Linked DNA regions of Homo sapiens. The protein of the gene in region 1 purifies or fractionates together with the protein of each later gene. This does not show direct contact. Each region holds a gene or a part of one and is shown on either strand. Other genes may lie near its edges.

Region 1 (5,794 bases):
GCTGTTCTAAGTGAATGATGGTAGTGCCTGAGAGCTCAGTCCCGGGTGAGCTCAGCCCCATCTGCCTCTTACCTGCCTTATACTCAGAGGCATATTTTCCTCCACATTCCCCCCTCAGAAGATCTACCGTCAAAGAAGCCTTTAAAACTGCAGAGATTCTTCCCCATGCAAATAGGAAAGGGCATCCAGCCCCTTCTTCCCAGGGTGGGGCAAGGACTGACCACATAGGGACCAAGCAGAGGCCAGAATCCTAGAGCAGTGCTTCTCACAGCTGAGCTGCATCAGAGTCACCTGGAGGGCTGGTTAGGACATAGACCGCCAGCCCCAGACCCATAGTTTCTGATTCAGTAGGTCTGAGGAGGGCCTGAGAGTTCCCAGGGGTTGCTGGTACTGCCAGCTGGGCACCTTTGAGAACCTCTATCTTAGATGATTTTCCCAAACTTCAAGTATTGTCTTTATTTTTAAAAGAGAGAAAGGGGAGGGTGTGTGCCTGGTGTTGCTAGGCAACCATTAGCCAAAGGTGATGAGAGCCGGGTTCTGGGAAGGACAGCAGGCTGTGCGGGGTGACCTCAGACTGGACAGAAGGCTGTGACTAACTTTATTGGCATCTCTCTAGAGACATAAGTAGGCTTCACCGCCAATTTGCCTAAGGTGTTCAGCAGGACTATTGAAGGCCTGGCAGCTGCCGGAGGAGAGCCTGTCTCCCAGCCGGGCCTTCTGCTCCTTGCTCCAGAGGGCTTTGAGCTTGCGGTAGTACACCTTGCAGCTGAAGCCCTCCCTGAAGCCCCTCTTGATGTGGCTCTTGAGGAAGTCCAGGGTGGGGTACATGCGGCAGCAGGCCACGCACTTGTAGCCATTCTGCTGTGCTGGGTGCCACCTGGAAGCCATTAGGATGTCCTGGGATGTGATGGAGTCCAGGCCATGCCTGGATTTCTTGGTGGCTTCTCGAGGGCAAGTGTTCTCTGGGGAGGAAGAGGACGAACAGATGTTCTCAGCCATGTCCTCAGAAAGGCAGTTGTCCCACTTGCCCTCATCCTGCTGCACCTCTGGGAAGTCATAGGCCTCCAGCTGGCTCTCTTTGTCTGCACACACGAAGTAGCTGTAGGGGGAGAACCAGGGCCGGTAGATAGTGCAGTTCCGCCTCAGCTTCTCTCCGTGCTGGGTATCCCCCAAGCTGCAGTCTGCAAAGGAAAGGACCAGGTCTGAGTCTCTGGCAGGGAGCAGTGGAGCCAAGGATGCTGGAGCAGAAAGGTAAGAAGGCAAACATCAGGCATGACCTCGGTTACCTCCACCCCACCACGATTGCAGTTCTGAGAGCAGACGCAAGACAGTGGTAAGAGCAGCCGAGGGCATTCCTTCTCACTGCATTCTTTTTCTAGGGGTACAAAGGGCCGTTGGATCTTGGGGCAGGAGAGGCTGCTTTTAGTTGGTAAGCCTTGGTATTTGTCGAGGCCTTCCCCTCCTGGAGACACCATGTCCACTGACTCCTCTAAGGATAGACACAGACAGGTGACCCAGCGGATAGCCAAACCGGCGGCCTCCCACAGTCCCTCTTTTCGCCACCCATGGCTGTGACCCTTTTTTCAGCCTCACTGCTCATCTTGATCCCTCCACGGCCCACTCAGCCAGAAACTGCTCTTGCACACCAGTTTCAGAGACAGGAGAGGGGAGGCAAGGCGAGAGCCCCAGGCCTGTGGGTGTCTACCAAAGGAAGAAGGGCCAGATAGGAGGCTGCAGGTGACAAGACCGCGCATGGGGGTCCAGCTTCCAGACACCTCTGCTTCCTTAGGGAAGCAGCCCCTTTTCATCCTTAGCCTCTCACACATTCCCGCCCAGAGTCAGAGAAGTCCTCACCTGGTGAGAGCGCTGTGTTCTGTATCCCTTGCCTGACAATGATGCTTTGGTACTGGGGTGGCAGGGCCTGAGCTGGGCTGGATGCCTCAGTGGGTACTGCTGTCTTTGCAATGTCTGGGTTATAGAAGAAACACTGGTGAGCTGAGCAAGGTTGGGATTCCACTTTCTGGGACTCCCCCAGGCATACCTAGGGGCTCAACCTCTGTACTTCAAGGCATCTCAACGCTGAAACAGAACAGTGACCTCTCAAACTCAGCCAGGCAGAGCTATTCTGGATGACATCCTGGGGAATTCTGAATGGGGCCATTTCATTCAGGCCTCAGAAAGATCCTCTGGAAAGTGGGATTTATGATGTAGCCCAGATGACACCTCTCCGCCTGGCCTGCCCCTCACCTAACCCTCCTGCATCTCATCACGCGGATGGCTTCACTCCGCATTGCCAGTCTCCTGAGCATCCTGGGACCCAGAGTCACAGGCTGCAGAGCAATGTTCCATGCCCGCTTTGAGGATTGTCCAGTTGAAACATCTCATACCCACAGTCAGGGTTCCCGTGGGCCATCACTGCACGGCACACCCTGGAGTGCTAACACTTGGACAAAAAGCTGACCTGCCTCAAATCCCAGAATAGCAGCTGTGTTCAGTTTGGGGGACAAATTTATAAATGTCATATATGTAGACAAATGGATGCTTAGGAGGCCTACTCCACTGAGCAGTACTTCTCCATTTTACTGTGCATAGAGATCCCCTAGGGATCTTGTTAATAACACAGATGCTGATTCAGTGGATCTGGGGTGGGAACCTGAGATTCTGCATTTCTAACAAGCTCCCAGACGATGCAGACGTTGCAAGTCTAAGGACCGTATTTTGAACAGGGAGTCCTCAGGGTGTCCAACTTTATTCCATGATGTGCTCATCAGTTTACGCTGCTGCTTAGGCTTCTCTGATTTGGCTAACTCCAAATCCTCTCCAAACTTGTCAAAACAGAGCTAAAACTAGTTTCTACTCTATGTAGACATACTGCCACCTTGAGATTTCATGCACAATCTAGGGGGAAAAACTTGATGATAAATGGAGACTGAGGCAGGAGAATCACTTGAACCCAGGAGGCAGAGGTTGCAGTGAGCCGAGATCACATCATTGCACTCCAGCCTGAGCGACAGGAGTGAAACTCTGTCTCAAAAAAAAAAAAAAAGTTTTCCCCTTTCTTCCCTTACCAAAAATCAATACACAGCAGTAACTACTTACCACAAATGCAGCATTTTGAAAAATTATTTTCTCCCCATGCGTAATTTGACTTTCTCACTAAATCATGGTCCTGTAACATGATCTGGTAGGGTACTCAATTAAAAGCTTCAAAAAAAACCACATCTTTGTGGCCCTAGTGGCACCAAAGTTTACCTGGCAGGCTGGTGGCACGAGAGAACATAATGTCGGGAAAAGCACTCAGGGCGGAGGAAGAGATTGGAGGTCCAGAGATGCTGAGGAGTGAGAAGTTCTCCATATTCTGACCACTGCGGGGGTACAGAGATCACACGCCTGCTCTGGAGAGGCTGGCTGGTTTGTCCAGAGGATAAACATTCTGAGCACAGTTGATGTCACAAGGCACATGATTCCACTACCAACTAGGTTACCCTTTGGAAGATGAATGGAGTCTACTGAAAGCAAGATTAAAATGTGTAAAGATTGTATTTGACTTGCCATTGCCCAGTGGCAGGCCCTGATTGACAATACCCAGAGAGAAGAATGTAGTAGAGATACTGTAGTGATGCTGTCTATTTGTCCCCTTTTATCTTTGTTATCATCAGTTTTCTGTGTTGACACTGTCTACCCCCAGCCCTCCAGCCCTGGAAACCTCTGTCCTGTCTGAATAATCTCCTTCCTTTTCTTCTCCTTTATCAGCCTAATCTCTGTCAGCAAATATTTTTATTGTTTTGTTTTAGTTTGTTTTTTGAGGTGTATATATTTTTCACATTTTCTTTGGAAATTCAAATTTGTAAAAGTTGCAGAAATTAGGCTGGGTGCAGTGGCTCAGGCCTATAATCCCAGCACTTTGGGAGGCCAAGGCGGGTGGATCATTTGAGGTCAGGAGTTCAAGACCAGCTAGACAAACATGGTGAAACCCCATCTCTATTCAAAATATAAAATTTAGCCATGCGTGGTGGTGGGTGCCTGTAATCCCAGCTACTTGGGAGGCTGAAGCAGGAGAGTCGCTTGAACCTGGGAGACAGAGGCTGCAGTGAGCTGAGATAGCGCCACTGCACTGCAGCCTGGGTGACAGAGCGAGACTCCATCTTAAAAGCTGCAAAAAATAAAATCAATACAAAGAACACCCTTATGCCCTGTATCCAGATTTTCCTATTAACATTTTACCCCATTTGCTGTATCCGTCCCCTTCCTCCTGCCCCCTGCCCCATGTGTATGTGTATATACTTAATTTTTTCTGTGAACTATTTGAAGGTAAGTTATAAACACTATGTCCTTTTATACCTAAGTACTTCAATGTGTATTTCCTAAGAATAGGGGCCAAATATTGTTTTCAGTGGTTGGTGCTCTTTTTAGCAAGTGACTAAAGCACAAATGGGTGGCTTACTCAATACTATTTTGCTCATTGCTTAAGTCAGTTTGATGGGGAGACTCTGGGACTCCAGAGAGGCAAGGTTGCCTCTTCGTTTCGCTTGTCCTATAACAACCTTGTGCACTAACGAGGTGTGGAATAAGGTGAAAGATGATTGTGACACTTGGAAGATAAGCTGAAGACACCCCTTTCTAGATTATCACAACATGTCAACTAGATACAGAGCAGGGCTGCAGATCTAGATGGCAGGTATGTTTATGCTGCATGGGGAGCTATGGCCGCTCTGGAAATAGTGATGGGCTTGTTTTGCAGTGCTGTCGAGCATGTGTGAGTGAGGTGTGAGTTAGCTTCTGCACGTGAGAGCCCAGAGTTGTCTTCCTGTGTGTATTTATTCACGGTACTGAAACATTCGAAGGACAATGGGAGAACATGATTCCCCTCGTGTTCCTCCCAGATAGCCTGGTTTGGAACATTAGCATGTATTGGAAAGTAAGTTGAAGCCACATACTTTGGCAGTTTGGGGGGTATCAGCAATTTCATTTGGTCCATTATGGTGTAGAGAAAGCTCATGAGTCTGGGCATCAGCTTATGTGACTTCTAACCCTGCTCCGCCATGAGCTACCTGTGTGATATTGGGCAAATCTCTCTGCTACTTGGTTTACCCATGTTATTAGTTTAGACTCTAAACTGGAATGGATGAACATCTTCCTGGCTAAAACCCAGTGACTGACATGTGGACAGTAGCATACTTGTGAGTGATGCACACAGGACCCCGAGGACTTGGAATTGCATTCTGTCTTGACCCATCACATTTCTCCGACTGCCAACTTCAGACTCTCCCACTGCAACCTCAGACTTAAAGTAAAGGGAGCTTAAAATACTGGGGGGAAATATGGGAGGCAGAATCTCTCAGTGCCTGTGTAGAGTTTTTAAAATGCGACCCGGTTTTGGTTTAGTCACTGAAAAGTTTGTGGGAGCCTGGCGGTTCCAGGGTGCACACCACTCCTCGTAGCAGGTCCCCTGTCTTGTGTGCTGTGTCCCCCCGAGGTATGCTGGTGCTGGTGGCCCAGGCAGGAGGTGACACTCTCAAAGTGACTGGTCACTACGTAAAATGTGTCTTTCTTTTGTTTGTTTCCCACCTGCTTTCCGAGCCCCTTTCTCGGACAGGTAAGATATCCTGTTTTTTTGTGGATGACTTACATCCCCAGATGCCCTCCTCTGCTTGGGTGTGTGCATGTTGGGGGGTACTGTTGGGAGGGCCACCTGGCTGGGGTCCAGTCATCTCTCTGTCCTCCATTGCCATTATTTTCTGAACCATCAAGCCTCTAGTCCTGAAGCAAGAGAGATAATGTGTGGGGGTCATTA
Region 2 (3,941 bases), on another chromosome or scaffold:
TACCAAAATATATTGCAGCTAAACAGAACTTTACCAGATTGGTGGGAAAAAGTGGCAGGAGAGAACACTTTCAGATTGTGGTATCCTATTCTAAATGGTGGTTTGTTCAGAAGATTATAGCAGCAGAGTAACATCAAAACAACAAAAAAAAACAATAAACTTGTTGGGATACTTTCATCAGAAATTCCTGAATTCTCCACCATAACCCCCCATATTTGTTAACTCCTCATTTTGTATAGATCATACCATTTTTCTGATTAAAATCCTTTCCCTGGCTCCCTTTCTGAAATATAAGCCCTGCATATAAAACCTTTTTAAATCTCACTCCATCTTCAGCGTCTCCAGCTACATCTCTTACCATATCCACTTCATATTCATAACTTACACTCATAGATCATAGCACAGTCCCTAGCACAGTACCTACTCCGTAACAGATTTTTAATATAAATGATTAGGTTGAAATGTTGAATAGAAATGGGTTGGCAAAAAGCATGGAAACTTGACATATTTAATGTCACCTGAAATGGACTCCAAATCAACCTCAGGTATAGATAGTACTTAACCCTTGTGACACTCTGATTGTCCTTTGGGAGATCATGCCTGGCATTCTCATGAGTTCACACCAATATGGGAAAAGCAGTGTAGAAATTTGACATTTGGGAGAATCTAGCCATTCGTAACCTCAGCCATGATGCAAAACAAACCTAAACCAGAAATTTGACGTTTTATACTACTACTAGTAACGACAACGTTTGAGTTTTTTCGTTTAAAACAATGAACCAGAAATCTTGGTTTTGGACGTGTTTTTCCGGCTTAAAAATACCTAAGTATATCCCAAGAGCATCCTCAAAACTTTTCAGTTTCTAGGATGGGGAGTATACTGACAACCTAGCAACTAAGACTGCCAGCCAGAATGCAGTGCTTCATGCTGCAGGAGAAACTGTTTTACAATTTTTCATAGGGTGGGTGTAATCTGTCAAAGACAGCTCTGCATTAAAGAGTTTTACAAACATGTATGTTTATAACCCTGCTATAGTATGTTTAACAAGCACAAATACCAGAACTTGTCCTACTTGGGTGATAAAGCAATTACAAATTGCAAAAAAAAGAGGGAAACTATGGGAGTAGCCCTCAAATTATCTCCGAACTGATTTACCCATTCACTCACCTAGAACTGCATTAAAAAACTTAAGACAGAAGAGTATTTTATTCTCTTCGCAAAAATTTGTTCTTGTCAGTATCAAATTAAGAGATGTAAATCAGGACTTATCCTGATTAACATTTATCTCCTTTTACAACTATCAAAGAATAAATCAACAGTATAAATCCTCTTTTTGTGATTATAGTTTCACATTGTCAATATTCCCTCTATTCATAAGCTTGAAATAACTTACTGGAATAATCATTCATTTCTAAACATAAATGAAATACACATAATACAGTGATTTATAAATATATTTGGTATGCTTAGTTTTAGAATACAGTATAGTATACTTTATTTTGGAGATTTAATTACAGAAAAAAACTTCTGAATAGATAACATGGTTCAAAATTCAGCAAGTGCAAAAAGTATACACTGAAAGTTCTTGTCCCTTTGTCCTGCAACCCTGAGGTTCCCTTTGTTGGAAGCAATCAGTATTACGAGTTTCTTGTATATGCTTCTAGAGAGTTCTTCCGATTGCAAACAACTGCAAATACTTCTGCACACCTTTGTTTTTACAAACACTAGCATACTACTCTGCACATTACCATTATAATTGTACTACATTTTTCTCGCATCACATATGCTAGAGATTGTTCCCAACACGGAACATTGTGCACAAAGAGCATATTCAGTCATCTTTTACAGCCACAGAGCAGTCCACTGTATGCAGCTATCATGATTTATCTAACCAATCCCTACTAATGGACATTTAGGTGTTTCTAATTTTTAGCTATCACAAACAAGTAGCATTAGTATGCTTTAAAATAAAACAATACGGCCAGGTGTTGCGAGAAGTCAGGGACCCCAAACAGAGGGACCGGCTGAAGCCATGGCAGAAGAACGTGGATTGTGAAGATTTCATGGACATTTATTAGTTCCCCAAATTAATACTTTTATAACTTCTTATGCCTGTCTTTACTGCAATCTCTGAACATGAATTGTAAAGATTTCATGGACACTTATCACTTCCCCAATCAATACCCTTGTGATTTCCTAGGCCTGTCTTCACTTTAATCTCTTAATCCTGTCATCTTGTAAACCGAGGAGGATGTATGTAGCCTCAGGACCACGTGATAATTGCGTTAACTGCACAAAATTGTAGAGCATGTGTGTTTGAACAATATGAAATCTGGGCACCTTGAAAAAAAGAACAGGATAACAGCAATTGTTCAGGGAATAAGACAGATAACCTTAAACTCTGTCCGTTGGTGAGCCGGGCGGAACAGAGCCATATTTCTTTTCTTTCAAAAGCAAATGGGAGAAATATCGCTGAATTCTTTTTCTCAGCAAGGAACATCCCTGGGAAAGAGAATACACGCCTGGGGGCAGGTCTACAGACGGTCCCCCGGGCGTGGCCATCTTTTATGGTCTGTAGACTGTAGGGCTGAAATAGACCTCAGTCTCCCATATCGCTCCCAGGCTTATTAGGAAGAAGAAATTCCCGCCTAATAAATTTTGGTCAGACAGGTTGCTCTCAAAACCCTGTCTCCTGATAAGATGTTATCAATGACAATGGTGCCCAAAACTTCATTAGCAATTTTAATTTCACCCCAGTCAGGTGGTCCTGTGATCTCGCCCTGCCTCCATTTGCCTTGTGATATTCTATTACCTTGTGAAGTACTTGATGTCTGTGACCCACAACCTATTCGTATACTCCCTCCCCTTTTGAAAATCCCTAATAAAAACTTGCTGGTTTTTGCAGCTTGTGGGGCATCACGGAACCTACAGACATGTGATGTCTCCCCCAGACGCCCAGCTTTAAAATTTCTCTCTTTTGTACTCTGTCCCTTTATTTCTCAAACCTGCCGATGCTTAGATAAAATAGAAAAGAACCTACGTGACTATCGGGGCAGGTTCCCCGAAGGCCAGGCACAGTGGTCCAGGCCTGTAATCCCAGCAATTTCACGAGTGGAGCCAGGTGGATCAGCTGAGCCCAGGAGTTCCAGACCAGCCTGGGCAAATGGCGAAACTCTTGTCTTTACAAAAAATAGAAAAAATTAGCCAGGCATGGTGGTGCACACCTGTAGCCCCGGCTACCCGGGAGGCTGAGGTGAGAGGATCACCTGAGCTTGGGAGGTTGAGGCTGCAGTGAGCTGTGATTGCACCACTGCACTCCAGCCTGGGCAACAGAGACTCTGAATCAAAAAATAAAAATAAATAAAACAACATAACATAAAAACAAAAAACACACCTCAAATTACCAGCTAGGATATTTACGTTTCAGACCCAGATCAATTGCAAAATCAATGTTCAGCTCTCCTGGAAAAGTTCTCATGTATGGACCTGACCTCTATCAGTTGATTGTCTTAGCTCAATCTTACAATTTGGTCTACTCCATAAGCTCACTCATTTGGTTAAGTAAACAATGTCTACAGTTCTAACAATTATTTTTACTAAAATGCATAATTATGTGATAGTTATACATATACCAACCTGTTATGTGAGACAAGCTGACCTGCAAGTAGTCCAAGGCCAGTGAATCAATTACTGCTTGTACATTGTGTGCATCATCTTCTTGACTCCTAGGAATAACTATGAGGTCTGGGGGGGGAAAAAATCACATAATTTTGTATCCATGAGAGGCCAAGTTTTCATCTCATTGTCTCTGACTAGGCTACTGAATATGCTCAACTGCTATAAAGGCTCTGCCCAAACAGAACATGCTGTAAAGTACAGATAAAGTTAATAAACCCTGAACTCTACACAGCAGAATCTTTACTGGTTGAGTATTTATTGA

What was found.
Region 2: the proteins of SPATA46 (region 1) and CEP95 purify together in Homo sapiens (affinity purification with mass spectrometry; 2 studies listed by BioGRID and IntAct, with this or other methods). This does not show direct contact.

What each region holds. Positions count from the first base shown.
Region 1 is NC_000001.11:162,373,436-162,379,229, forward strand, and holds the start of SPATA46 (spermatogenesis-associated protein 46), read right to left. Parts: upstream 3,420-5,794; 5' UTR 3,356-3,419; coding exon 3,253-3,355; intron 1,969-3,252; coding exon 1,855-1,968; intron 1,182-1,854; coding exon 613-1,181; 3' UTR 1-612. UniProt on the Homo sapiens protein: Plays a role in spermiogenesis and fertilization.
Region 2 is NC_000017.11:64,509,977-64,513,917, reverse strand, and holds part of CEP95 (centrosomal protein of 95 kDa), read right to left. Parts: intron 3,746-3,941; coding exon 3,638-3,745; intron 1-3,637.